Homo sapiens: one gene and its partners. The protein of the gene in region 1 purifies or fractionates together with the protein of each later gene. This does not show direct contact. Each region holds a gene or a part of one and is shown in the gene's direction. Other genes may lie near its edges.

What was found.
Region 2: the proteins of ENTREP3 (region 1) and ANKRD13D purify together in Homo sapiens (affinity purification with mass spectrometry; 3 studies listed by BioGRID and IntAct, with this or other methods). This does not show direct contact.
Region 3: the proteins of ENTREP3 (region 1) and HECW1 purify together in Homo sapiens (co-immunoprecipitation; 3 studies listed by BioGRID and IntAct, with this or other methods). This does not show direct contact.
Region 4: the proteins of ENTREP3 (region 1) and HECW2 purify together in Homo sapiens (affinity purification with mass spectrometry; 4 studies listed by BioGRID and IntAct, with this or other methods). This does not show direct contact.

The regions. Positions count from the first base shown.
Region 1 is NC_000001.11:155,252,464-155,259,829, reverse strand, and holds the start of ENTREP3 (protein ENTREP3), read left to right. Parts: upstream 1-4,346; 5' UTR 4,347-4,952; coding exon 4,953-5,177; intron 5,178-5,373; coding exon 5,374-5,430; intron 5,431-5,635; coding exon 5,636-5,746; intron 5,747-5,851; coding exon 5,852-5,971; intron 5,972-6,097; coding exon 6,098-6,205; intron 6,206-7,366. Other genes in the region: SCAMP3 (secretory carrier-associated membrane protein 3), read left to right, coding at 876-1,004, 2,173-2,332, 2,444-2,545, 3,039-3,156, 3,411-3,557.
Region 2 is NC_000011.10:67,285,192-67,292,322, forward strand, and holds the start of ANKRD13D (ankyrin repeat domain-containing protein 13D), read left to right. Parts: upstream 1-4,111; 5' UTR 4,112-4,269; coding exon 4,270-4,359; intron 4,360-4,474; exon of another isoform or gene 4,475-4,886; coding exon 4,887-5,022; intron 5,023-5,116; exon of another isoform or gene 5,117-5,130; coding exon 5,131-5,255; intron 5,256-6,284; coding exon 6,285-6,330; intron 6,331-6,411; coding exon 6,412-6,555; intron 6,556-6,799; coding exon 6,800-6,989; intron 6,990-7,131. Other genes in the region: GRK2 (beta-adrenergic receptor kinase 1), read left to right, coding at 95-259. UniProt on the Homo sapiens protein: Ubiquitin-binding protein that specifically recognizes and binds 'Lys-63'-linked ubiquitin. Does not bind 'Lys-48'-linked ubiquitin.
Region 3 is NC_000007.14:43,444,646-43,451,665, forward strand, and holds part of HECW1 (E3 ubiquitin-protein ligase HECW1), read left to right. Parts: coding exon 1-925; intron 926-6,182; coding exon 6,183-6,284; intron 6,285-7,020. UniProt on the Homo sapiens protein: E3 ubiquitin-protein ligase that mediates ubiquitination and subsequent degradation of DVL1. Also targets the mutant SOD1 protein involved in familial amyotrophic lateral sclerosis (FALS).
Region 4 is NC_000002.12:196,590,552-196,598,065, reverse strand, and holds the start of HECW2 (E3 ubiquitin-protein ligase HECW2), read left to right. Parts: upstream 1-4,511; 5' UTR 4,512-4,558; intron 4,559-5,082; exon of another isoform or gene 5,083-5,602; intron 5,603-7,514. UniProt on the Homo sapiens protein: E3 ubiquitin-protein ligase that mediates ubiquitination of TP73. Acts to stabilize TP73 and enhance activation of transcription by TP73. Involved in the regulation of mitotic metaphase/anaphase transition.

The DNA.
Region 1 (7,366 bases):
CCACGTTTGCATCCGTTTGACAGGGTTGTTGTGAAGGTTAAACAAAATATATGTGAAGTACTTGGTACAGTGCTTAGATGTTTTAAATAATAATAAACAGTATTAATTTTTCCACTCTCACTTGTCTCCTTGGACCCCAAATTGGAGATAAAAGAGAGGATCCAGGGCTGGGTATGGTGCCTCACGCCTGTAATTCCAACACTTTGGGAGGCCGAGGCAGGCAGGTTGCTTGAGCTCAGGAGTTAGAGACCAACCTGGACAACATAGTGAGATCCTGCCTCCAAAACATTAATGAAAAAAATTAGCAGGGCATGATGGTACCTGTCTGTAGTCCTAGCTCCTCAAGAAGCTGAGGTGGACGGCCAGGCGCCGGGGCTCATGCCTGTAATCCCAGCACTCTGGGAGGCCAAGGCGGGTGGATCACCTGAGGTCAGGAGTTCAGGACCAGCCAACATGGTGAAACCCTGTCTCTACTAAAAATACAAAAATTAGCTGGGCGTGGTGGCATGTGCCCATAATCCCAGCTACTCAGGAGACTGAGGCAGGAGAATTACTTGAACCCGGGAGGCGGAGATTGCACTGAGCCAAGATCACACCACTGCACTCCAACCTGGGCAACAAGAGCGAAACTCTATCTCAGGAGAAAAAAAAAAAAAAAAAAAAGCTGAGGTGGGAGGGTTGCTTGAGCCCAGGAGGTTGAGGCTACAGTGAACCATGATCATACCACTACCTTCCAGCCTGAACAACAGAGACCCTATCTCAAAAAAAAAAAAAAAAAAAAAAGAGAGGATCCAGGGATGGAGAGAAGGGGGAGTGATTCCTTTGTTGGTCTCTGTTTTACTTCTGGGGTCCACCTGTTTTTTTGTGCCTTACAGCTCGACAGAACAATTGGCCCCCTCTACCTTCTTTTTGTCCAGTTCAGCCCTGCTTTTTCCAGGACATCTCCATGGAGATCCCCCAAGAATTTCAGAAGACTGTATCCACCATGTACTACCTCTGGATGTGTGAGTAGTGAGAAGCCTTTTGGAGGAAGTTACAGGTAGATCTCTTAACTGCCCTGGGGTCCGCTCACCAAGAACCAAACACTTCACCTCTATTTAGAACTCACCAGCCTGCTAGCAAATGTTCTTGCCCTCTCCCCACTTTTTATTGTCCATATGCAGGAATATATTTTGAATTCTTTAGATGTCTTTGGGCTGGGTGCAGTGGTATACGCCTGTAATCCCAGCACTTTGGGAAGCTGAGGTGGGTGGATAACCTGAGGTCAGAAGTTTGAGACTAGCCTGATCAACATGGAGAAACCCCATCTCTACTAAAAATACAAAATTACCTGGGCGTGGTGGCACATGCCTGTAATCCTAGCTACTCAGGAGGCTGAAGCAGGAGAATCACTTGAACCCGGGAAGTGGAGGTTGCAATGAGCCAAGATCATGCCATTGCACTCCAGCCTGGGCAACAAGAGCAAAACTCCATCTCAAAAAAAAAAAAAAAAAAAAAAAAAAAAAAAAAAAGGCCGGGCACGGTGGCTCACACCTGTAATCCCAGCACTTTGGGAGGCCCAGGTGGGCAGAACATGAGGTTAGGAGATCAAGACCATCCTGGCTAACACGGTGAAACCCCGTCTCTACTACAAATACAAAAAATTAGCCGGGCGTGGTGGCGGGTGCCTGTAGTCCCAGCTACTTAGGAGGCTGAGGTAGGAGAATGGGCGTGAACCCAGGAGGCAGAGCTTGCAGTGAGCCGAGATCCTGCCACTGCACTCCAGCCTGGGCGACAGAGCGAGATTCCATCTCAAAAAAAAAAAAAGAAAAAAAAAAATTAGCTGGGCGTGGTGGCGGGCGCCTGTAGTCCCAGCTACTCTGGAGGCTGAGGCAGGAGAATGGCGTGAACCGGGGAGGCGGAGCTTGCAGTAAGCTGAGATTGCGCCACTGCACTCCAGCCTGCGCGACAGAGCCAGACTCCGTCTCAAAAAAAAAAATGTCTTTGCAAGGGGATCACACATTATTGACATTTGCTTTCTCCATCTCCCCTGTTGAGGATTCCATGAAGGCAGCAGCTGCCTTCATTTCCTTACTCTGCCATGTTTGGTGAATATTATAGGATGAGCATAGATGGGAAGGAGCCTTCATTGCAGTCCAGAAGGGCTCCTCATCCTGTCCCTCTGCCCCTTAGGCAGCACGCTGGCTCTTCTCCTGAACTTCCTCGCCTGCCTGGCCAGCTTCTGTGTGGAAACCAACAATGGCGCAGGCTTTGGGCTTTCTATCCTCTGGGTCCTCCTTTTCACTCCCTGCTCCTTTGTCTGCTGGTACCGCCCCATGTATAAGGCTTTCCGGTAAGTGTGTTAGTGGTGGGAGAGTGATGGAGACCTGGGATGGGCCCCACGTCTGCCCATCCTTCAGCTCTAATTCTTCTCCCACCCTCCCCATTTTTTTCCTCTTTGTAGGAGTGACAGTTCATTCAATTTCTTCGTTTTCTTCTTCATTTTCTTCGTCCAGGATGTGCTCTTTGTCCTCCAGGCCATTGGTATCCCAGGTTGGGGATTCAGGTTTGTGAGGCTGTTATCCACCCTCACCTTTCCCTCTAGATCCAGCCAGCACTGGGTGCTGGGATAGGAGTTGTTCAGAAAAAGGAAATGTGGTTTTAATCCTTGGGAGGTACTAGTTTAATGAGATACAAGACATACTTCCAGGATAGAGCGCAGACAGCACTCTTGACACATATAGATTGAAGGGAAGAATGCTGCATTTGGCCAATCTAAGGTGGCTTCCTGGAGGAGGCATAGAACCATGGTTGAAAGGAGGAAGAAGAATCCCCAGATGAGTGCCTGGAAGAGCTTGGAGAGCTCAGGGCTAATGGTTCAGAAACTGGAATTAAACTATGAAGAGATTAGATACAGTTTGGGATTGTGGTGCTTGGAATGCTGCTCGATTGACAGGGAGCCACTGCTGATGGGAAGGGTAGGAACAGGGGATGCTGGTGACATAACCAGTGGAGAAGCTGAGGAGCCCCTCTTCACTGGTACATCCTTCCCTTTACAGTGGCTGGATCTCTGCTCTGGTGGTGCCGAAGGGCAACACAGCAGTATCCGTGCTCATGCTGCTGGTCGCCCTGCTCTTCACTGGCATTGCTGTGCTAGGAATTGTCATGCTGAAACGGGTGAGGGCTGTGTCGAAGGTGGGGCCGGGATGGTGAGATCATGGGTCCCCAGGGGCGTGGGTGGAACATTCAGGAGCAACTGGCACAGGTCAGGCTGCTGGGTTGTTCTCAGCTAATGGACCTCTGGGGTGTGTGTTTCTGTGTGTGAGTGTGTGTGCTGGGCAGCAGGCTGCTGAGTGGTAGTGATGCTGTTAGGCTGGGGTGGGGAACCAGTGGCTGGAATGGGCGGTAATGTCTTTGTCCTCTACTTGCAGATCCACTCCTTATACCGCCGCACAGGTGCCAGCTTTCAGAAGGCCCAGCAAGAATTTGCTGCTGGTGTCTTCTCCAACCCTGCGGTGCGAACCGCAGCTGCCAATGCAGCCGCTGGGGCTGCTGAAAATGCCTTCCGGGCCCCGTGACCCCTGACTGGGATGCCCTGGCCCTGCTACTTGAGGGAGCTGACTTAGCTCCCGTCCCTAAGGTCTCTGGGACTTGGAGAGACATCACTAACTGATGGCTCCTCCGTAGTGCTCCCAATCCTATGGCCATGACTGCTGAACCTGACAGGCGTGTGGGGAGTTCACTGTGACCTAGTCCCCCCATCAGGCCACACTGCTGCCACCTCTCACACGCCCCAACCCAGCTTCCCTCTGCTGTGCCACGGCTGTTGCTTCGGTTATTTAAATAAAAAGAAAGTGGAACTGGAACTGACATCCCCGTTTCCTGAATCTTCATTGGGAATTAGGCCTTATGAAAGAGAAAGGAGAGTGTGGAGTGAGGTGGGAAGGTCGGACCCGGCTTTAGTGTAAACTGGGAGATATGAGGGGCGGGGCGGTGGAGCCCGAGTGGCTGGCGCAGGAAGGAGGTGGGAAGTCCACGGAAACGCGAAACCCGGAGACGCCAGGGAGCCCTGCTCCCCACCCCTCTCCATTAATGACGGGGAAGAGCCACCGCCTCTGCCGGGAACGCCAAGGAATACGCGGGCCTGGAGCCTGAAAAGCTGGATGGGGCTCAAGTGGAGGCCCAAAGGATCACTAGCAGCCTAGCCAGGGTCCAGAGCGAGGCAGGGACTGGAGGAGCGCTTATCCGACTGCCTCGCCCTGCCGCGGGATCCCCCAACCCCGACAGGGTCTCAGTCCCGAACTACAACTCCCGGGGTGCACCGCGCCGGCCCTCGCCGCCATGCCCCTCCTTCCCGCACCATCCCCATTCCCATCCCCCTTCTCTAGTCCCCGACCTGCGGCAGCCGGAGCTCGGGGAGCGGAGCGTGGTGGGGAGGGGAGCGGGACAGGCGACACAGGAGACAGCGGCGCCGCGGCCTCTCCCCACCAGGCGGCCCCGGATCCTACTGGACGCCCTGAGGGCACACCGACCGCGCCTCTAGAGTCACCCCACGCCGACCCCTCCCCTCTTCTCTAGACTTATTTCCATCCTTCCCGCTTTTACCCTCCCCACCCCTCCCTGGGCTCCAGGCCGCCGCCCCCTCCTCACTCCTGGACCGGCCCTTCTCGGTGCCCCTCTTCCCTAGGGAGATGCGATGAGCCGGTGCCCCCGCGTCCTCATCGTCGCCCCGGGCACGGTGCCCGTCCAGTGCCCGTGGTGGGGAGGGAGCACTCCGCGGTCCCTCCGTGACGCCCCTCGCTTGGCCCCCCCCACAGCTGGCGTCCCTCGGCCATGCCCCAGGGGACCCAGCCAGGGGGTGGGCTCTAGAGCGAGTGGGGTGGAGAGGAGAAAGGACGGGGCCTTGGGCGCCTCTGAGATGCTCCCAAGTGCCAGGGAGGGCCGAGCGAGGCGCAGGCAACCGGGCAGCAGGCATGATGCCCTCGCCTAGTGACTCCAGCCGCTCGCTGACCAGCCGGCCCAGCACCAGGGGCCTTACCCACCTCCGCCTCCACCGACCCTGGCTGCAGGCCCTGCTTACGCTGGGGCTGGTCCAAGTGCTCCTGGGCATCCTGGTGGTCACCTTCAGCATGGTGGCCTCTTCCGTCACCACCACCGAGAGCATCAAGAGGTCCTGCCCGTCTTGGGCTGGGTTCTCGGTGAGTTGGGTGCACAGTTGTTGGGTGGGGGAGGCTCCTCGGGCCCCACCCTCCACACCAGCTGCAAGTCCACATGCTTGCCTCTCCTCCCTCTCCTGGTCCTCTGCCTCCTTACAGGGCTGGGTGCATCCTGTGGTGAGGGGCTCACTCAGGAGCCTCCCCTGCCAGGCTGAGCCTGTGCCCACTCTGTCCCCAGCTGGCGTTCTCCGGGGTGGTTGGCATTGTGTCCTGGAAGCGGCCATTCACTCTAGTGGTAGGTGCCAGGGTCCAGTGCCCACTGGGAGGCAGGTGCCCAGCACGCAAGGGGAAGCCCATTTATGTCCTCAAGAAGGGAACTGGCTCCCCAGTTGGTGCCAGCCGGGTGGGCACGAAGTGTCTGTGAAGGAGGGGGACTCTGTCCGTGGCAGAGGAGTACTCATGAGGGTCCCAGCCCTGAGTCTGCACCCTGTTTTCCCCAGATCTCCTTCTTCTCCTTGCTTTCGGTGCTCTGTGTCATGCTTAGCATGGCTGGCTCTGTTCTCTCCTGTAAGAATGCTCAACTGGCCCGAGACTTCCAACAGTGCTCTCTGGTGAGATTTGAGGAGGGAGAGCTGGAAAGAACTGGCTGGGGGAGGTGTGCAGGACACCTCAGTTTGTCCTGACTCAGGCTGCCTCACCCTCCCTGCTCCACTCAGGAAGGAAAGGTCTGTGTGTGCTGTCCCTCTGTTCCCCTCCTCCGGCCCTGTCCAGAGTCGGGGCAGGAACTGAAAGTTGCCCCTAACTCCACCTGTGATGAAGCCCGAGGGGCCCTCAAGGTGAGCTTGCACCCTGCAAACATCCTCCTGGTTCTCACTCTTGCCTCCCCTGCTGGGGTACTCACAGGCCCATAATGTGTGGAACTTAGCCGTCTCCTGACTCCTCTCCTCCTTTCCCTTCCCCAGAACCTGCTCTTCAGCGTCTGTGGGCTCACCATTTGTGCCGCTATAATCTGTACACTCTCTGCTATTGTCTGCTGCATCCAAATCTTCTCCCTGGACCTCGTGCATACGGTGAGAAGGGAGCAGGGGCCAGGGCACGCAGGTATGGTGGGGGCAGGGGTGTGTGTGCTGAGACTTGCCTGAGGGAACAATGGCTACAGATCTGGCTTTTGAGCACCAGGGGCTATGGGTTATCTATTATCCTCATCTATTGGAGGAATGGATGTTTAGTGGGGAGGATGAGAAGGGGAGATGGCAGGGAGTGAGTTAAGTATGTGATGCTGGTCTGGGACCAGGAGAGGGTGCTTTAGAGAATGGGACTGGATGGTGGGGTAGAGTCAAGAAGGTCCTATGCTGGGCACGGTGGCTCATTCCTGTAATCCCAGCACTTTGAGAGGCCCAGGCAGGCGGATCACCTGAGGCCAGGAGTTCAAGACCCACCTGGCCAACATGGCGAAACCCTGTCTCTATTAAAAATACAAAAATCGGGCCGGGCGCAGTGGCTCGTGCCTATAATCCCAGCACTTTGGGAGGCTGAGGAGGGCAGATCACCTGAGATCAGGAGATCGAGACTATCCTGGCTAACATGGTGAAACCCCATCTCTACTAAACATACAAAAAATTAGCCAGGCGTGGTGGCGGGCGCCTGTGGTCCCAGCTACTCGGGAGGCTGAGGCAGGAGAATGGCATGAACCTGGGAGGCAGAGCTTGCAGTGAGCTGAGATAGTGCCACTGCACTCCAGCCTGGGCGACAGAGCAAGACTCCATCTCAAAAAACAAACAAACGAAATACAAAAATTAGCCAAGTGTGGTGGCGGGTGCCTGTAATCCCAGCTACTTGGGAGTCTGAGGCAGGAAAATTGCTTGAACCGGGGAGACAGAGGCTGCAGTGAGCTGAGATGGTGCCACTGCATTCCAGCCTGGGCGACAAGAGCAAGACTCCGTCTCAAAAAAAAAAAAAAAAAAAAAAAAAATATATATATATATATATATATATATATATATACACACAAAATTACAAAAATTAGGCTGGGCTCCGTGGCTCATGCCTGTAATCCCAGCACTTTGGGAGGCCAAGGCAGGAGGATCACCAGATATCAGGAGTTTGACACCAGCCTGGCCAACATGGCGAAACCCTATCTCTACTAAAAATACAAAAATTATCCGGGTGTGGTGGCGGGTGCCTGTAATCCCAGCTACTCGGAAGACTGAGGCTGGAGAATCGCTTGAACC
Region 2 (7,131 bases), on another chromosome or scaffold:
AGTGGGGGCTGAGCCAGGGATGGGAGGGCCGAGGGGCCAGGCCAGGCAGGCTGGGGAGAGCCCCAGCTGACAGAGCTGGGCTTGGCATGTGCAGAGCGACCCTGAGCTGGTGCAGTGGAAGAAGGAGCTGCGCGACGCCTACCGCGAGGCCCAGCAGCTGGTGCAGCGGGTGCCCAAGATGAAGAACAAGCCGCGCTCGCCCGTGGTGGAGCTGAGCAAGGTGCCGCTGGTCCAGCGCGGCAGTGCCAACGGCCTCTGACCCGCCCACCCGCCTTTTATAAACCTCTAATTTATTTTGTCGAATTTTTATTATTTGTTTTCCCGCCAAGCGGAAAAGGTTTTATTTTGTAATTATTGTGATTTCCCGTGGCCCCAGCCTGGCCCAGCTCCCCCGGGAGGGGCCCGCTTGCCTCGGCTCCTGCTGCACCAACCCAGCCGCTGCCCGGCGCCCTCTGTCCTGACTTCAGGGGCTGCCCGCTCCCAGTGTCTTCCTGTGGGGGAAGAGCACAGCCCTCCCGCCCCTTCCCCGAGGGATGATGCCACACCAAGCTGTGCCACCCTGGGCTCTGTGGGCTGCACTCTGTGCCCATGGGCACTGCTGGGTGGCCCATCCCCCCTCACCAGGGGCAGGCACAGCACAGGGATCCGACTTGAATTTTCCCACTGCACCCCCTCCTGCTGCAGAGGGGCAGGCCCTGCACTGTCCTGCTCCACAGTGTTGGCGAGAGGAGGGGCCCGTTGTCTCCCTGGCCCTCAAGGCCTCCCACAGTGACTCGGGCTCCTGTGCCCTTATTCAGGAAAAGCCTCTGTGTCACTGGCTGCCTCCACTCCCACTTCCCTGACACTGCGGGGCTTGGCTGAGAGAGTGGCATTGGCAGCAGGTGCTGCTACCCTCCCTGCTGTCCCCTCTTGCCCCAACCCCCAGCACCCGGGCTCAGGGACCACAGCAAGGCACCTGCAGGTTGGGCCATACTGGCCTCGCCTGGCCTGAGGTCTCGCTGATGCTGGGCTGGGTGCGACCCCATCTGCCCAGGACGGGGCCGGCCAGGTGGGCGGGCAGCACAGCAAGGAGGCTGGCTGGGGCCTATCAGTGTGCCCCCCATCCTGGCCCATCAGTGTACCCCCGCCCAGGCTGGCCAGCCCCACAGCCCACGTCCTGTCAGTGCCGCCGCCTCGCCCACCGCATGCCCCCTCGTGCCAGTCGCGCTGCCTGTGTGGTGTCGCGCCTTCTCCCCCCCGGGGCTGGGTTGGCGCACCCTCCCCTCCCGTCTACTCATTCCCCGGGGCGTTTCTTTGCCGATTTTTGAATGTGATTTTAAAGAGTGAAAAATGAGACTATGCGTTTTTATAAAAAATGGTGCCTGATTCGGCTGTCTCAGACTCTTTTTGTACCTGGTGACCCCTTTTCAGCTTCTGCTGGGCTGGGGCCTGATGGGGAGGGTCTCGGTGGTACCAGGTCTCCTCCACCGCCATGGCTTCCAAGGTGGTCTGCTCGGGCCCAGGCCATCTTCCAGGTGGGGTGAGGCAGTGGGTCCCACTTCCCCTCCTACCCCTCCCAGCTGACAGTCCTCTCCACCTAGTGGCTGTCCAGTGCCCATTCCTCACCTTTTCCCGGGGAGGAGAGAGCAGCTTCTGCCACTTCCCAGGTAAGCAGGAGGAGGTGCCAACAGTGTTAGGCCTGGCACAGTGTCTGGGCTGACTGGGACCGTCTCAGGCCCACAGAACACCCCTGCACAGCAGGCACCAAGCTGAGGCCCCTCCCCAGAAACAGTCACAAGGCACCTCTTCCCTCTAGGTCACACCGCAGCCTCTGGGCCCTTGGCCATCTCTGGCTTCAGCCTCCTCTCTGGCCTCACTGCACAGCCCTAGTAGGGGTCCCTGAGGCCTGAGGGGAACCCCAGCACTAGGCCTCTCCTCTACCCAGAGGCTTCTGGTCAACTTCCCTTTCCCCAGGTCCCTGCCCTAGCCCCGCGGGTGACTAAACAGATACATGTTGCTGCCCACTCCACACAGGGCTTTGCTGGGCATGGCTGGGGCCCATGGCCAAAGCACAGCATGCCAGGCAGAGAAGGGAGGCAGGCAGCTGGGCAGGGTACTCAGGGCTGAATACAAGAGTCAGGGGCAATGGCCTTTGAGCCAGGCCTCCAGCATTGGTGTGGGAAGGAGGGAGGACATTTCTGAGGCAGGGAAGAGCCAGGGACTCATGAGTGGCCCAGGCTGGCCGGAGGACTATAGGAAGGAGCCATGCCTGGAGGCACTGAATGCCAGGCTTAACCTATCCCGGAGCCAGGTGTGTGCTCAGGGCCTGCAGAATGAAGATACAAACGACATGGAGTCCAGACCTGCCATGCTCAGGGAGCCCTTGAAGGTGCGGAACAGGGCTGAGAGTGGTGAGAGCTGGCTCTAAAGTGATTGCCTGGTTACTGAGTACAGGATGTGGGGAGGGAGGTGAAGGACAGGAGGCAGGGAGACAAACCTCCGCAGTGGGAGAGGAAGAGATGAAAAGAGGCCAGACGGGAAGAACGTGGTCCAGCAGAAACAGGCTGGACTTGGGGCTGAGTGAGGCGGGAGTCTGGGGAAGAGGGTAGGTGTGGTTGGGTTGGCTTCGGACATACTGATGGGATAGCATGGGATCCCTGGGCACAGAGATGTCCTGGAGTAAGCTGAAATGTGGACCTGGGGGTGGCATCAGGGTGACAATGGGAACGGACAGTCTCTCTCCCAGGGATGTGGGGGTCAGGGAGAGAGAGGAGGCCGTGGAAGAGGGTTGAGAAGGCACTGTCATGGAATTAAGTGCCAGTGGGGAGCTGTGTTCAAGATGGCAGAAATCAGGAGAGGCTGGAACCAAGAAAGTCCTGTCGGGGTTGAGTTTGGAGAGGGCTCAGGGAAGGGACCGCCTCTGAGAAAAGGGGTGGCCAGGGAGGGCTGCAGTAGTGGTGAGCAGGTGAGCTCTGGGCATTCAGAAGCCTTCGGGCTGCTACCAACCCCAGGACCTCACAGATTGACACCATAGCGTGGGGTGGCAAAGTGACCCCAGATGGCACAGGCGCCATGTGACTACAGGGAGAAGGCAGGGTAAAAATGGCAATCAGGCCTTCCAGCCCAGAGTCTCAGAACTGAGGACGCCCTACAGCAGGAAGTGATGCTCAAGCTAGCTGGCCCTCCTCAATCATGTTCCACGTAGGGAAAGGGAGAATAGAGGGTCAGCCTTGGCCACCTAGCAAAACCAGGGCCCCAGACCCCAGGCTGGGCCTCCAGTAATCAAGGGCCGGAACTGAGCTGACGGAGGCCTGCACCCTAGTTCCGGTGTGGGTGGAGGGGCCGGCCCTGATTTCGAAACTCGCCTTCCTCTCCTGACGCTGGCAGCCAACCGCAGCCTCTGCAAAAGGGACTCGTGCGGCGGGCGAAGGCAGCCGTTCGCCGCGGGCGGTCCTCCGCCGGGACGGCTCTGCCGCTGCCTGGGCCTGCGCCCCTCTCTCCCCGAACTCCTATCCCTGACTTCAGGGCCCCGGGGGCCGCCTCCCCGCATCGCTGGGCCTGCAGACACCGGCCAGGTCCCAGGGGAAGGTGCTTCCCGCTCAGCCGGCAAGCACTTAGTGGCGTCTGCTCGTTGCTCGTCTCCAGGCCGGGTGAGGGGAGCCGGGGCGCCCCACTTCACCCGCACACCCCAGCAGAGTCGGTGACCGCGGGACCTGGGGTAGGAAGACCGGGGCGAGCAAGGGGATCCGCGGGGGAAACGCAGGCATCACGGCTGCAGCAGGACCGCGGCCCGCCGCGCACGCGCGTGCACTACCGAGGGGCCCAGTGCCCGCCCCCTCCGGCCCCGCCTTCCTCTTCCGGACCCGGCTCCGGGGGTCTGCGCAGGGCTCGGGGCGCCTCCTGCGGGCCGCGGGCGGAGCTGTAACCGGGCACCGCCCTCCAGGCCGCCCCAGCGGACCCGGGCCCGACCGAGGTCGGGGCGCAGACCCAAGGCCGGGCATCTCCTCGGGCGCTCGCGGTTGCTCTGCCGCGCGCTGGCCTGGCCGCGGTTGCCATGGTTGCGGGGGGACGGGGGCGCGCGCGAAGCCCCGCCCCGGCCCGGCGCAGCCCCGCCCGCTCCGCCGCCCGCCCCGCCCTCCCTGCCGCCCGCGCTGCCGCCGCCGCCGCCGCCGCCGCTACTGCTGCGGGGGCCGCGGGGGGCGCAGCTGGGGCGCGGCTCGGAGGGGAGGCTAGGGGGCCGTGCCAGGCCCGAAGCCGAGGCGGGGCCGGGATGCGGCGCTGAGGCCCAGCATGGCCGGCCCGGGCCCCACCTTCCCGCTGCACCGGCTCGTCTGGGCGAACCGGCATCGCGAACTGGAGGCCGCACTGCACAGCCACCAGGTGAGGCCCCGCTGGGGCACCCGGCCCTTCCCCCGGGTCCCCCACCCAAGGCTGTGGCCTCCGTCCTGGAGCCCCCCCCCCCCCCCCGCCCGCTCAGCTCCGCAGCCACATCCTGGGCCTTCCTCCCCTGCACGATCCCAAGCCCAGGTCACCGGCCCCTCGCGCCTGAGCCTCTGGCCTCCTCTCCCCTGCGCTGGGCCTTGCCCTGCTCGCCCGAACTCGCTTCCGCATCCTTGCTGACCCAAGCTGAGAACAAGAACTCTGGTCCTGGTCCCCAGGTTCCGCCAAACTCCTGACAACCTGCAGCTCTGCCTGACCAGGCCCCGCCGCCAGACCCCGGCTCTGCCCCTGCCTTCCCTCCTGCCCCCTCCTCTCCCCTGCCAGGACACGCAGGCCACCCTCTGCCATCTCCCTGGTCAGTCCGCCGTCCTTATTTCCCACAGCGATTCCCAACCCTGCTCGCCCTGGCAGCCTCCCTGCCTTGCCCTCTTCTCTCCTGCCCTTTGTGAGTGTCCCGTCTCCCCCAGCACGACATTGAACAGGAGGACCCCCGCGGGCGGACCCCACTGGAGCTGGCCGTGTCTCTGGGAAACCTGGAGTCTGTGAGAGTGCTCCTTCGACACAATGCCAACGTGGGCAAAGAGAACCGCCAGGGCTGGGCAGGTACTGCAGAGGACAAGGGGCTCCCCCTGAGGCTGGCAGGCGGGGGGCAGTGAGCAGCCAGGCCTGGGGTCATCTGGAGGGCTCCCCTCAGCAGCCTGGTGCCCGCAGTCCTGCAGGAGGCAGTCAGCACTGGAGACCCCGAGATGGTGCAGCTGGTGCTCCAGTATCGGGACTACCAGAGGGCCACGCAGAGGCTGGCGGGCATTCCGGAACTGCTCAACAAACTTCGCCAGGTACAGCAGGGCACAGTTATGGAGGTGGGGTACCATGGCAGGGCACCACCCTGGTTACTGTGCCAGGCCTGGCCTTGGAAAGGCACCCAGTTTGTGCAGTGTGCCTCCTGCCACCAGCAAGGAGGTCTGTCTATCTTGACCCCAGCCCAGGGTCACGTAGGAAAGAGAGACGGCCAGGCTCACGTGGGAGAGACTGGACCCTTTGGAAGAGAAGCCTTGCCAGCTTTGGGCCTCCTGAAGAATGCAGATTACCTGGAGCAGGGACTTCAGGTTGACTCGGTGGATTATGGCCTGAAACCCTGGAATACTTGCTACTACGCACCCTTCTGGAAGCACACGGAGGGGCCTGGCTGGCAGAGCATACTATCTCATACCCCCTACCCCAGGAGCAGGCTCGGAGGGAGCCACTGTGCCCCCTTTACAGAGTAGGACTCTGAGACCCAGTGGAAACAAAGGCTCCCCCAGGGCTCTGCACAGGCTCATGGCCAGGTTGAGGCTGGCCCTCCACCTCCAGGTGCTTACAGCCTCATTGTCTGAAGACCACTGTAGTGCCCCACTTGGCCCACCCTCTCCAGGGCAGAGTGGTTGGGCGTAGCTGAGCCATAGCAGTGCGTCAAGACTTGATGAAGGGCCAGGCGTTGTGGCTTACTCCTGTAATCCCAGCGCTTTCTGAGGCCAAAGTGGGCGGATCACTTGAGCCCAGGAGGTGGAGACCAGCCTGGGCAACATGGTGAAAGCCGTCTCTACAAAAAGTACAAAAATTAGCTGGGAGTGGTGGCACACACCTGTGGTCCCAGCTACTCGGGAGGCTGAGGTGGAAGAATCACCTGAGCCCAGGGAGGCAGAGGTTGCAGTGAGCCGAGATTGCACCACTACACTCCAGCCTGGGTGACAGAGCAAGTCTCAAAAAAAAAAAAAAAAAAAAAAAAGACCTGATGAAGGGCTGGGCTGGCTGTGGACAAGGGGCTCCCAGGCCTGCTGGAGCCAGCAGCAGGCAGGGCGCTGACAAGCAGCTCTGGTTTCTCTTAGGCCCCCGATTTCTACGTTGAGATGAAGTGGGAGTTCACCAGCTGGGGTGAGTGGGGACCTCTGGGCTCCCAGGGATTTGGGGTGGGGCCTTTGGAAAGACCCCCAGTGACCCCTGTGCACCCTGCAGTGCCCCTTGTGTCTAAGATGTGCCCAAGCGATGTGTACCGCGTGTGGAAGCGGGGTGAGAGCCTGCGAGTAGACACCAGTCTCCTGGGCTTCGAGCACATGACCTGGCAGCGGGGCCGGAGGAGCTTCATCTTCAAGGGCCAGGGTGAGCTCTGGACAAACTCATTGCAGCTCCTCGGCCCTTGGGTTTCCTGCGGCTTGGGAGGACGGTGCTGCCTTTTCTCTCCACTTTCCAGATGTGGAAGCTGAGGTTGGGGATGGAGGGGCATCCAGGGGCCAAGACTGACCCACTTGGCAGCAGGTGGCTGAGGGTACATGATCGCCCTCTCTGCACTGCTGGCGCCCAGCACTGATTTGCGCCCCCTCTGTCCACCCCTACCGGCCGGCAGAGGCAGGAGCCCTGGTGATGGAAGTGGACCATGACCGGCAGGTGGTGCATGTGGAGACACTGGGGCTCACTCTGCAGGAGCCCGAAACACTGCTGGCCGCCATGCGGCCCAGCGAGGAGCATGTGGCCAGTCGCCTCACCTCTCCTATCGTCTCCACCCACCTGGACACTCGTAATGTGGCCTTTGAGAGGTCGGTCGGGTCCTGGCACACCGTGGGTGGGATGGGGACGGATAGCAAGAGCCACCATTAATGAGGGCAGGGCGATCCTTGAAGATCCTGGTTCAGGCCTCTGGGCTCACTCACAAGGGGCTGCTCAGGGGCAGGTGGGTTG
Region 3 (7,020 bases), on another chromosome or scaffold:
ACGACCCAGAGCCGGGCTGGAAGGGAAGAAGAGGAGAAGGAGCAGGAGGAGGAGGGAGATGTGTCTACCCTGGAGCAGGGAGAGGGCAGGCTGCAGCTGCGGGCCTCGGTGAAGAGAAAAAGCAGGCCCTGCTCCTTGCCTGTGTCCGAGCTGGAGACGGTGATCGCGTCAGCCTGCGGGGACCCCGAGACCCCGCGGACACACTACATCCGCATCCACACCCTGCTGCACAGCATGCCCTCCGCCCAGGGCGGCAGCGCGGCAGAGGAGGAGGACGGCGCGGAGGAGGAGTCCACCCTCAAGGACTCCTCGGAGAAGGATGGGCTCAGCGAGGTGGACACGGTGGCCGCTGACCCGTCTGCCCTGGAAGAGGACAGAGAAGAGCCCGAGGGGGCTACTCCAGGCACGGCGCACCCTGGCCACTCCGGGGGCCACTTCCCCAGCCTGGCCAATGGCGCGGCCCAGGATGGCGACACGCACCCCAGCACCGGGAGCGAGAGCGACTCCAGCCCCAGGCAAGGCGGGGACCACAGTTGCGAGGGCTGTGACGCGTCCTGCTGCAGCCCCTCGTGCTACAGCTCCTCGTGCTACAGCACGTCCTGCTACAGCAGCTCGTGCTACAGCGCCTCGTGCTACAGCCCCTCCTGCTACAACGGCAACAGGTTCGCCAGCCACACGCGCTTCTCCTCCGTGGACAGCGCCAAGATCTCCGAGAGCACGGTCTTCTCCTCGCAAGACGACGAGGAGGAGGAGAACAGCGCGTTCGAGTCGGTACCCGACTCCATGCAGAGCCCTGAGCTGGACCCGGAGTCCACGAACGGCGCTGGGCCGTGGCAAGACGAGCTGGCCGCCCCTAGCGGGCACGTGGAAAGAAGCCCGGAAGGTCTGGAATCCCCCGTGGCAGGTCCAAGCAATCGGAGAGAAGGTTAGACCTCAAACCTGATCAGAGTGAGAATAGGACCATCAGGGGGACAAAGGTGTCACCAACAGTTTAAAAACAAGAAGGGCGGGGGATCGGTGTCAAACGGGGTTGCTGGGGCAATGTATGCCTGTCTTGTATATACATGTGTGCATGTGTATCTGTGTATGAGCATAGATGACTGTGAGTAGCTGACACCCCACAATGTCTCAGATACACACCAGGAATTACGACTGGTTGGATGTGAGCGTGCACTTGTATGTGTGCTTCTATGTTTGTTTTAACTAATCACCAGAACTGGTTAGTGTACATGTTATCCTAGTCTTAACAGCAGCCAGAGCCCCAAGACTAGTATCAAATGATATACATGGGAAAAATCTATCTACATTAAATGGATAATGTGTAAATATCTGCTGACTTTCAAAGCACATGGAAGATTAGCAATAGATGTTAATATTAGTTGAAGAACAGATTTTACCTCTGTTTTAGAATTCAACTAGCCCATGTACGTACATATAGATATGTCTAGCCTACATATATTTGTCATTATTTATGTCCACTCAATTCTTGTTATTACTGTTGGTTTTGTTTTGTTGTTGTTGTTGTTGTTGTTGGCTATTTTGGCTAATGGAAGGGAAAAATAACATGATTGTGTATAAATGACTTTGTTTCCAATAAGAATCAAATCCAAAAGCTGCCACCATTAGTTTTAAAACGTATTCTGTGTTTTAACCAAAGATGTTCTTTCTTAGTCATGCCTGTGGAATTATATGTGAAATTAATTTGCATTTCCTTATCCAGGAGTGGAAACTGTCTTCCAGTCAAGTGACAGTGGTATGACTGGGAAAAAAAATTGAAAAGTCACATAATAATATGAAATAATTCAGTTGTTTTAAAAGAGAAAAACATAGCCTCTGCTATTTTGCTGTTCTGCTGTTGAAATTAGCCTCCAACAAAAGGCGGGGATATTTTCTCTAGATTGTAAGCTCATCAAGGGCCAGAGTTGTGTTTCTTTATGTTTGAATTCTTAGCACCTAAACAAACCCCTGGTGCCTACAAATTTTTTTTTTAACAGGAGCTAAAGTGAGCATTAAAAAAAATAATTTTAAGTATTCAATAATGCCCGCTTCTACATTTCAGAAAAAGAGTGAGAGAAGGTGGCACATGCAATAATGAGAAACGCAAGGAAATTGGTAGAGAAAAAGAAACACAGGCAGAAAGGTAAAACAGACAGCATGGAAAGGTACCCACAAGGAGCGGGATGGAAAATCCCTCCTGTGAGTAGAAGGGAATGGGAAATGCCTTTCTTTCACAAGGATGTTTCGAGGACTTCCTTTATTCTAGGCCAGATGTAATGCACTGGGCGCAGGAAGATGGAGTGGCATCAGGTGATGTATGGACATTACTCGATAATTACAGCATAATTAAAATAATACAACAAAAGGAGATTGGGGGATTCCCACATAAAAGGCACACATAGGAGCTGGCAGGGATGTTGGGTTACAGAGGTCTGTAGATTTTTCCTGTGAAGAGCCAGATAGTAAATACTTTAGGCTTTGTGGGTCAAGAGGTAAAAAGCTAAATAACTGTTCTCACTAAAAAGCTTTTTTTTTTTGTATTAAAAAGTGTACTGACACTTTTCTTAGCTCAGAGCCATACAACCCTGTTTTAGTGCACAGTTTTTTGGCCCCCATGTTGGGAGATAATCTACACATGGTCAATTGAAACTTGGCTCAATGTAAATTTATATAAGATCATGTTTTACAAACAAAAAAGTCACATCCTTGCCCTTTAGAGGCCAACAGTCTAGCAGGTGGAAGAGCAGGAAGTGTTTCAGGGTCACAGTGGACATCTCTGAATTGGCACTGGCAGTTTCTAAAGAAATATCTAAGTTCCTGAACTCTGCAGAGTGTAAACTCAGAAAAGGTTAAGAAGCACCTACATGCTTCACTATGGCGATCACAAGGGGAAATAAAAAGATTCCCGAGGGGTCTCTTGATCTGCTGAAGGCCATGCACACGCTGGCATGTGACTTCTTCCCAGCCATCCTTCCCCGCCTCAGCAGTGAGTCCCCAGGCTAACCGTGTCTGCATTGTGGGACTGTCCTTCACTTGCCACCAGGCTTCACAACAGCAGATGCTTCAAGAAAGCAGGGCTTTAACATGACCTGCCTGATACGTGATTGTGTGGGTGACCTCTGCTTCCATAAAAATCCCTATTGCTCCTTCGCCTTGACTTCTAAGATTGCAAATTCCTTTACTGTAGAAACTGCATTAGACGGCTGGGTGTGTGGGCTCACGCCTGTAATCCCAGCACTTTGGGAGGCCGAGGTGGGTGGATTGCCTGAGGTCAGGAGTTCAAGACCAGCCTGGCCAACAGGGTGAAACCCTGTCTCTACTAAAAAAAAAAAAATACAAAATATTAGCTGGGCACGGTGGCGGGCACCTGTAATCTCAGCTACTTGGGAGGCTGAGGCAGGAGAATCACTTGAACCCAGGAGGCAGAGGTTGCAGTGAGCTGAGATCGTGCCATTGCACTCCCAACTGGGCAACAAGAGCAGAACTCTGTCTCAAAAAAAAAGAGAGAGAGAAAAAAAAACTGCATTAGATTAACCCAGGTGGATTTGTTGTCCACGTGCCCACATAGATAAGGCTGCAACAATTTATAGAGGAACACTGTTCTAAGTCTGAACTGACAACTATACAGGCTAGTATTCTTTTCATACTTTTTGCTTTATTTCCCTCTATAAATACCTCCTTTTTAAAAGTTTAATTTAAAATAGTTCTTGAAAGACCTTCTGCAGATAAATGAAAAGAGTAACATAATGTCATTGTTATGAGCTCAGGCCCTGGAGTCAGGCCTCCTGGATTTATATTCACTCCTCCCACTTCCTCACCAAGTTACCTAGCTGTTCTGTGCCTCAGTTTCCTCATGTGCAAAATGGGTATAATTACAGAATCTCCCTCAAAGTGTTGTTGGGAAAATTTAATGAGATGATACTACAAAAGCACTCTGCTTCCCACCAAGTGAGGGTTCTTCCAGGCAGACAAGCAGTGAGGGTAACTGTTTATATTATGTTGTATAAAGCATCTAAAACAATCCTTTGAATTTGCATTTCCTGTACTTTATAATTCAAGGGAAATTTTCACATTATTAGGTATAAATCACTTTGCTTCAAATAATATGCAAGGCAACCTATCTTTCTCTACAATTAGGTTATATTATTTATAAATAGAAGGGAATTTAAAACGACGTTGCTTGCTTTTAGCTGAGGAATAGATCTCTTTCTGGGAGGTTCTGGCGGGTTTCAACACTTGCTTTGTGTTTGAGGCAAGGGTGATGATGTGGAACCCTGTCCTTGTGCAGAATAGAACTGCTTGCTTCTTCAGTGCCTCCATCCATTCAGTCGGCTGAGACATGTTGGTCACATCATTGCATTTGCTTGGGGTTCACAAGCAGGTGGGATCAGCTGCATTAACCCCAGGCAGTCAACAATGTTGTATTTCCACTAGCTTGGAGGAGTAATTAACCTGATTGGTTGCATTAATTTCAAGAGGTAAGTCTATTGTTGATTTTAAAGAAACTAAGTTAAAAATGCAGCAGCTGATGACATAACAACTATACCATGGTTTTGTTTAATTTCTGACACTAAACATGTATACAAACAAACATGAGTGTGGTATCCACTTAAACACAGAGCCCATCTTTGGAACAGCAGTCTGTCCACAATGAACTGGGTGCCGGCATGAGGGGAACCTTCCTTGTTTTCCATTAGCATCTCCAAGGACCCAGAGGATTTGAGTAACATAGCAGAATTTGCTCAACAAATAATGTTCTATATTTAACATTTAAAAGGACCCTTTGTTCCTGAATATATCTCTCCTTCTGTTTGCCAGTGAGCTCTAGGAATTAAATCACAAAATTAAACCCACCTTTCTTCCTAATTAATTTATTTTTATTTTTGATCAGTTCCGTAGAACTAGAGTGAGAAGAAATAACCATCCTTTCCATGTGTGGATATTCTAGGAAATATTCAGCATTTGAGATCCTACAACCATTTGACCACCATTTTTCAGTCTCTCTCCTTTTTGACCCAAGGGATAATGGAACACTTGCTATTTGCATCAGCAGAGGACAGAAGAAGGAAAAGGCCTGACCTTTGCCCTCTGGCCCTTAAAGGCTTTTGCAAGAAAACCAGCATGGTGTGAGGCAGGAGGAACCATCTGAAAAAAGGGCCATCCTTTGTCCCGGGCCCTTCTCACTCTGCAAAGATCAAGAGCACTGGCCTCTGATTATGTGACCCAAGCAGCTGGTGCTGCAGGCCTGCCTTCTGCATGGCTGCTCTACATGCCTGAGGACACCACTTCAGAACATCGTTCAGTTCATTATAAGTCCGAACTGAGAACAGTATAAGCTATGTCTGTTGTAGGTTTTCTTTTAATAATCTGAGGCATGCATCCTGTGGATATAATGTTTATTTCTAAACTTTCTCCATGTTTGTCTTTCTTCCTCCTTCTTTCCCATTTCTGTGTTTTGAGCTTTCCTGTCGCCGTCTTTCTGCTTTTTATCTACTTCCTTTGTCTCTTGTCCTTTCCTCTTTCCGGAGCACCCTGGCTTGTCTGATTTCTCCTCAAAATAATCTGGACAGTCCTGAGATCCCTCAGCCCCTTGGCTCCCCTCCCCAACCCCCCAACCTCCAGCTTTCCTACTACAGGAATTTACTTTCTTGGCTCGCCAGCTCCTTGACCTGTCTTGGTACCATCTAAGAGTTCATTCCCCTCAAAAATCTGAAAAACAGCCTTTCGGCAGCCCTGTGATGAAACCTATCCAAGTGAGGAGGTGTCATTTTGCATAAGCCCAAGGAACTTTTGTGGAACCTTATAAAACGCTGCATTTCCCTCAAACAGGCCTATTTCCTCCACTGGGCTAAAATCAGGCTCTGCTAATTTTCTCTTGTGTTCCTTTCTGGTGCCACTTTCTGATTCAGGAAATTCGGGTCATTACAGAATCAGACTCAAATCCTACATATTGGACTGTGTGGCGCAGATCATTAGTTATGAAGTGTTTTGATTTTCTTCTTTTTTAAAAAAATATTTCCCCCCTCACGAATGACTGTGAATGTAGCAAACTGACACACACACACAAATGGATTTCCCACTCTTTGGGGTTGTTTCTTGTAGTGCTTAGTTTTACAGTCATGCTTTTTTGATGATGTTGCCACGGCAGTGAATGAATCTGAATGTATTGACTATCTTGTCCGTAGGTGAATGTCCTATACTCCATAATTCCCAGCCAGTAAGCCAGCTTCCTTCCCTGAGGCCTGAACATCATCACTACCCAACAATCGATGAGCCTCTTCCACCAAGTAAGCTTTAGTTTTTAAAATCTGTGTCTTAACTCTTCCTATCAAGTCTAAGCAGGTCAGTATGAATTTGTGTGTAAACATCTAAAGTCTTTCCCGACTCCGTGCCTTACAGTGTTAACAAAGACCAATATGACACCTGCTCTAAAAACTGGTGGTTTTTTGGGGGTTTTTAGTTTGTTTTTTTGACTAATAGTTTCACCATGTGATCTTGAAGAGATAACACAGTGTTTTCAGTGCCTCTCAACTTCTGAAATGGAGAGCATTTCTCTGTTAGACTTGACTAGTCTTTGCAAACTGTTCATGACCTTTAAGTCCCAAATTTTACATTTTATATTTAAAATTTGCAGTTCAAGATAGAATAATCCTATTGTTCTCCATTGGATCTGTTACGTCACAAGCATCTCCATATGTTAAAACAACTTCAACCCATCTGGGCACATGAACTTGTACTTTCCTTACTATAACTTCCATCCATAGGGAATAGCTTCAAATTTCTTCTGCAGTTCTTAGGGGTTGCCAGGCAAAATATCATCTTTAAGATAGAATTCAATGTCAGTTTCTCCTGGTAACTGTAGTGGGTAATTAATAATTATCTAACTAGTCATCTGAACTTGGGAAATTCATTTAATCTCTCAGGGACTTAGTTTTCTCATTTGTAAAATTTAAAAAATAAAGTTTAAATGTCTCCATCTGCTCAATGAAAGATTTGACCTAGATAGTCTCTAGATACCATTCT
Region 4 (7,514 bases), on another chromosome or scaffold:
CTGGAGTGCAATGGCATGATCTCGGCTCACGGCAACCTCTGCCTCCCAGGTTCAAGCAATTCTCCTGCCTCAGCCTCCTGAGTACCTGGGATTACAGGTGCCTGCCACCACACCCAGCTGATTTTTCGTATTTTTAGTAGAGACAGTTTTCACCATGTTGGCCAGACTGGTCTTGAACTCCCAATTCAAGACACTTTTTAAGAAAAAAAAAATACACATTATACATACAAAATGAGGTACTGAAAAGAATATATATCCAGAATTAAAAAAATCACAACAATTCGCACATTCAAAAAATCTTATAAGGCTGGGCATGGTGACTCACGCCTGTAATCCCAGCACTTTGGGAAGCCGAGGCCGGTGAATCACTTGAGGTCAGGAGTTTGAGACCAGCCTGGCCAACATGGTTGAACCCCGTCTCTACTAAAAATACAGAAATTAGCCAGATGTGATGGTGGGTTCCTGTAATCCCACCTACTCTGGAGGCTAAGGCAGGAGAACTGCTTGAACCTGGGAGGCGGAGGTTGCAGTGAGCCAAGACCGCGCCACTGCACCCCAGCCTAGGCGACAGTGACACTCCATCTCAAAAAAAAAAAACCAAACAGCAACAACAACAACAACAACAAAACAACCTTACAAGTATTAGATCACCAAATACAGAAAAATACCACGATCTTTAAATTAATTAACTGCCTGACATACCTCTGTGATATGTCTTTCCTACGTATTTTGGCTTTATACTCTTTGATTTATTCTTCATATGAAAATGATTTTGTGACATTATGTTCTATAGAGTTAATAGATATTCCAGTGTTTTCACTAGTAAAGTTGACTAAAATTTGTTTTTATTACTGATAGTTTAGAGGAGTTTCTTTTCAGTCCACAATGCATTATTGGGAAAGTAACATATTTTTAGGATTGTTTCAAAATTTAGGAAAATCACTATTAAATTTATTTCACATATAAACAATAAGATGTGGGAGGGTTTTCCATATTCTAGTTCTGAATCCGTACATACATTTCAAACATCATTTACCCCGTTACCCATATACTTCTGTGCTGGGTGCTGAAGTATGCAGTTATTAATACTTGGTGGTATAATTTCCATCCCTTTACCTTTGTGTCACAACACTGAAGGGCCCAAGTGACTGTCTTTGCACAGTCAAAATAGACATCACTGTCACAACTTTAATGCCCACAGACCACATAAATGTATTCCACTTAACCAATTCAACTTCCCTTTAGCCAGATCCCCACAAATGTCCACAATCACTCCACTTCTTTCGGAACAAGGGGAATTAGGACAACACGGAAGTTAGAATGAAAAGGGACAGCAGTCTTGTCTTAATTCAAGCTGCAATAACAAAGCATCCTAGACTGGGTGGCTTATGAACAACAGAAATTTATTTTTCACAGTTCTGGACGCCAGAAGAATGAGATCAGGGTGCCAGTGTGGTTGTGATGTGGGTGGGAAGGCCCTCTTCCAGTTGCAGACTGCCATCTTTTCTTTGTATCCTCAAGAGGCAGAAAGAGGGTGAGAGAGCTCTCTTGGGTTTCTTTTATAAGGGCATTTATTCCATCACCTCCCAAAGGCCCCACCTCCTAATACCATCACATTAGGGGTTAGGATTTCAACACATGAATTTGGGGGAGCACAAACATTCAGTCCACTGCAAATCGCTTGAGATTAAAATATCTTACTTTGGAAGCTTTTATAAAAATATAAGACCACATGAACATGTCTCTCAGGCTCCTTCTGTGTTGTTGGAAGAGGGCTGGAGTATAAGTTTCTTGGAATCTGCCTTTGGGTTTAGCTTTGGCCATATGCTTTAGAAGGAGCAGTCACAAACCTTGGCACATCTGTAGAAAGGAAGTAACCTAGGATGATGAAGGGTCAGGACACATTGCCATGTGTCCTGCATGACTTATGGGTCATGCAAAGATCTTGGAAAAGAGACAATTCAAGTGGTTCACAAGTTTGTCTTCAGTGCTTGGAGTACTCTCAGGTGGAAGAAATATTTCAACTCAATATAAGGGATCACTTCCTAATGTCAGGCCAGTTTCAATGCAGAATTGACCAGCTTGTAAAGTACTGAGTTCTCTTTAAGGGAATGGCTCCAGGAGAGGATAAGTGAGACCCGGTCAGAGATCTTGTGAAGGAGAGTGGTGGTGATGACGAACGGGGAGTGCAGTGTGAAAGAACCTACCTAATCTTTACACACCTTTGCAAGTTTGAGATTTTTAGGATGACTTTGCTATTAATGTTCTTTGATGCCTTAGTCTCGGTTTTAATGGTCGATATGTAGAAAGTTTTAAAGGTAGTAGGGGCTGCTTTTAAAGTGAGAGAAAAATGTTTTTTAAGACCTAGGGCAGCAATAGTGATTCACTTTGCCTCTATTCATTTTTAGGGTTCTTCTTTCTCCCTCCTTTCCTCCCTTCCTCCCTTCCTCCTCTTTTCTTTTCTTTCTTTTTCTGTTTTTCTTTTCTTTCTTTCTTTTTCCTCCTCCTCCTCCTTCTTCTTCCTCTTCCTCTTCTTTTTTGACAAGGTGACAGGGTCTTGCTCTGTCTTCAAGCTGGAGTGCAGTGGTGCAATCACAGCTCATTGCAGTCTTGAAATCCTGGGCTCAACTGATCTTCCTGCCTCAGCCTCCAGAGTAACTGCGATTACAGGTTCAGGCCACCATGCCTGGCTATTTTTATTTTTATTTCTTTCTTTATTTAATGTATTATACTTTAAGTTCTGGGATATATGTGCAGAACGTGGAGGTTTGTTACATAGGTATACACGTGCCATGGTGGTTTGCTGCACCCATCAACCCATCATCTACATTAGGTATTTCTCCTAATGAGATCCCTCCCCTAGCCCCACAACCCCCGATAGGCCCCTCCTCCCTGATGTGATGTTCTCCTCCCTGTGTTCATGTGTTCTCATTGTTCAGCTCCCACTTATGAGTGAGAAAACGCAGTGTTTGGTTTTCTGTTCCTGTGTTAGTGGGGTCTCACTATGTTGCCCAGATTGGTCTTAAACTCCTGGCTTCAAGAGATCCTCCTGCCTCAGGCATGATTACAGGTGTGAGCCACTGCACCTGGCCCATTTTGACTAGAATGTAACATAGTGGTTAATCAACACAAAGAAGCTAAGGATTGCAGGTGTGGGGTTGCTGGATTTGAGTAAGTTGTGAAGGAGAACATCATGTGGGAACAAACCTCTAGGATCCCTGTTCTTCCAGCAAGAACTGGAATTGGGCCTTTTGTGGGGTGGGGCTCTTTGATTCTGTGGAGGATCCTAACAGTGATGCCTGGGCTGATAGATCCAGGGGACTAAGAAGTCAGGGCTCCTCTGAGACATGTGACAAAACACAGCTGACACTGACTTGAAATAAAAGAGAGAGGATTTATTGGCTTCAAGGGTAGAGTTCACTGCAGACACATCTACCTCCTGAGGTTCCTGAGAGGGTGGGACATCACCCTCTCACCAGCAGCTTTTCTTCCCTCAAAGTTGGCTTCATTGGCATGCACTGTTGGTCCTTGTTACCGTAGGCTTATATCCTTCCAATTTAGTTATCCTAGTTTAAAGAGCTTATTTTTCTGCAGTAATACATCCAAAGCCCTAGGCCGAGTTCCTGGATCAACATGCCCAACCCAGAACCGATCACTGCGGTCCGGAAGATGACTGGCTAGTTCTGGGGGTTGAGGGTGGGAGGTGTCAGTACCCTGGAGCCACAAAGACTCATTGTGGGTGAGGGGGAAGGGCAGTTCCCATAGGAATAATGAACTGCTGTTACCAGAAAAGGCGGAGAAATGGATAATATTGAGCACACACTCAAAAGTCCCAAAGGAATGGCTATCCATTATTTGGGGACTTACTCCATATGGATATAGTTAAATTGTAAAATTGAATAAATCTTCCCTAAATCTGGACAGATGCAAGGGTGGGTGGGGAGGGACACAATATATTTACACTTTAGCATTTTTACTTTTTCTCCTACGTGGGACTGGTTGATGAAGATGCTATAGAAGTAAACAGAAAGCCGAAAGTATTAATACAGTAATTTTAAATTTTAGTGCCCTCTTTAGGCAAAGTATCTGGGAACGCTTTCAATAATCCATTTTTTCATCGTGACCACACCCTGTGTGTGCGACATGAGTATTACCGTCTTGCCCTTGCAGTTGGGGAAACCGAGGCATGACACTCCCCTATTCAGCTTTCTGGTGGGGTTGAGGAACAGTGTTGTCTGCACGACCTCAGAGGGTCTCCTCCACCCTCCGCGACACCTCTAGGAATCCTCCTGTCCTTCGACTTCGCAGAAGGAGAGCAACTCAGGCTCCGCCGCAGCCTCGGGACTCGTCCTCCGCCCAGCCGCACCCGCCCCGTTCTTCCGCACCTTCCTCAGGGAGGTCCCGCTGGCCAAGGTCTGGCTGTCCCTCCTGTCCTCTGCCCCCGCCTCCCTTCCACCGGTCCCCGACGTGCCGCCAGCTCCCAGCCCAGCGTCCCGCAGGGCGGTGCGGGCAGATGCCGCCGAAGCGTCTAGCGGGAAGGGCGCCGGCGCGGCTGGAGGTGAGGAGGCCGGACTCTTCGCTCTCCGCGGACCGGGGCACCGCGGCTGGAGCGGACGCCCGGCACCCGGGCGGGAGGAAGGTGGCGGCAGGGAGCGGCGAGAGGGTGGCGACGCAGGCGGGTCGGCGCCTGGAGAGCGAGCGGCGGGGAGCCGGGCGCTGCGGGGCCGCTCGGGGCCGCGCCGCGCTCGGCCACAAACCTCCCGGAGGCGCAGGACCCCCGGCGCCCTCCCGAGCGCGGGCGGGAGCCATGGCTTCGCGCGTCCCCGCTGCCGCTGCTGACTCGACACAATCGGCGGGTCGCGCGGGGGCCGTGGCGTAACCCGGGGGTGGGTGGCGGCGCGGAGCCGCCTCGAGAGCTCTGGGTGTCGCTGGGAGCTAGGAAGATGCCAGCACAAAGGCGAGCCGAGACCCAGCCCGCTGCGGAGGGCGGCGGGAAGAGCCGCTGAGGGGCGCGCCGAGCGCGCTCTGCCCCTGCGCCGCGTCTCTCCGGGCGCTTCTCGCGGTCTCGGGGTCGGGGACTGCAGCGCAGAGACTCTCGGCTCCGTGGCAGCGGCCGCAGCAGCCGTGAGCTGCATGCAACGCGCGGCGGCGCCCCCGGCCGCCTGCTTTCTCCTCGGCGCGCACGGACCGGCCGCAGGGCGCCGGGGCCGCGGGTCCGGGCGACTTTGGGGGCGCCCTCCCGCCCCGCGGCCGGGTCCCCACCCGCAGCTTGTGGCGACGGGCGCAAAGCCCAGGTGAGCGCGCGGCCCTCGCCGCAGGTAGCGGACGGCGGGAGGTGGCTTTGTTTTTCCTCCCTTGCGCCCCGGCGCGGTCATTCATTTGCCATTTCGGTTTCCGCTGCCCAGGATGTGTTGGATGGTTTGGTTCTCCAGGGAAACTGGGACTTTGGGGTCTATTTGAGCATCAGTTGAGGGAGAGGACGCTTCATTTCCTTTTTGGTTGGGAATGTGCCGTGAACATCCTCTGCTGGAGCTTGGGGCCTGGAGCAAACTGGGGCTGCAGATTTAGACGTAGACGTTTCCGAGGACGCGAGACTGCAGAGGTCTGACTCTCTCATGCCTTGTCTTCACTATTAGCAGCGCTCGGGTGCTTTTCGTCGTTTATTATTATTAATTTAGAGAACATCTTTACAGGCACATTTCTTTTAGAGTTAGAAGTCTTTGGAGTCAGTACAGAGAGCTCACAATTAGAGTTACAAGGGTTCAATCGATATTAAACTTCAGGAAGGAAAACATTTGTGATCATTACAGATAGAGGTGGACAGCATGCAAACTTCGGGGGCCTTTAGCTTTTGGGTTATGATTTCTGCTTTCACTGTCCTAGACTCACGCAAACTGTTTTCGTATATATATACCTTTGTGAAAGTGTGAAACTTGTCTTTTCTGGAGTAGTGTTCTATAGTTTGTCATTTAGAAGAAGAATATTTTAGTGTAATTAGTAGAGCTCTCCATGTGTTTGTCTTATAAATATGATTTTCTTTTTACTATTTCTCCTATTCCCTCGAGGGTTCATTTCTTCTGTTGCTTTGAGAGAGCTTTTTTTCTTTCTCTTCCCAACAGATGGCTGTATGTTCCAAGAGGTTATCTTTAAAATGACACACACATTATCTACAAAGAAAGAAAGATCAGTTATTGACTTTATCTTTGGAGTTATTAAAATAAAAGGCCTAATCTGGATGGGGATATTATTAATGGCGTGAAAATCTGGAGTTTGCTAATCTGTTTGGTCATCAGAAGATTCCTGCGGGGATTGTTTATATAGCGTGGGAGACAGATGGCATCCCTAGCAGACTAGAGAAGCCAGGCATAAAGGGTCATTGTATTCTTCAGAAATTATCCACTTCACTATTAGAGGTGGGGTAGGGTGGGGTGGAGGGTGGCAAAGACATTTTGATCTCTTAAAGGAGACACTGTAACGTTACTATCCAGCAGTCTAACCAGCTTTAATTTTTCTTTTTGTTGAACATTCAAAAAGTCCCAATTGAGCTATTTGTTTTGATTATTTCATTGGCACATTTTGGCTTCGATGTGGTTGTGTGAAGCAGTTTATTAACAAAAATGTCTTTGAACTTAAAAATAATCGTGCTGCTTCTGGGGGAAAATCAGTTGCACCTTTCTTAGCTCTTGTATATAAATGGCCCCTTGGACTCAAACCGTCTTCTGGCTGGAAAGACTTTAGTCTTCATTAGTTTGAATCCAGTTTCCTTCACCATCTCCGTGACAGGTGATTTCCAAATCCCCACCATTTGGCCGCAGACTCTGAGGTTTGGGCACCATGATGATTTCCCAGTCTAAGACATTCGCTTCACCATCGCCTCTATCACGGTATTGGGCAACATTTGGCAATGAATCTTTATGAATGGCTGTGGTGTCGGTAAAGAAATCAAAATCATTCTGAACATTTGAGATAAACCAGCTGGAGCTTTTCTGCGCCTACCACTGTTGTGGATTATCTATGTGTTGTGTAGATTGCAACCAGATCACAAAGCTAGTTTTCCCTCTTTATGAATGTGAAGGAAAATATTCCAGTAAATTAACATTTGCCAGCCACAGGACTAAATTTAATGAAGATTATGAGCAATGTTTGACCCCTCTGAACAGGAGACAAAAAATAAAAGTAAGCACTGGTTCTGTTTCACTTGGGCAATGTGATCTTGGGAGAAAAACCTATATTTTCTTACTCTTTTAAAAGGCTTTTGCAACACTGATTTCAGCCAAAGGCAAAGAAACCAAGGTTGTTACCTGTAGTTGAGGACAGATGCTTTGGCGTTTTCTCCTAGATGAATGTGTTTTGCAGGAGAGGTGGCTTTTGGGATCTTCCCAGTTTTAATATGTGCCTACACATCAATGAAATGATCTTGCATTCAAAATGCTTGTTAAGTCTATATGGTTGGTATCTGTGTAACCTCTAACCAGGTGGCTTTCTCTGTTGTGAAGTGTTCCTTTAAGAGAAAC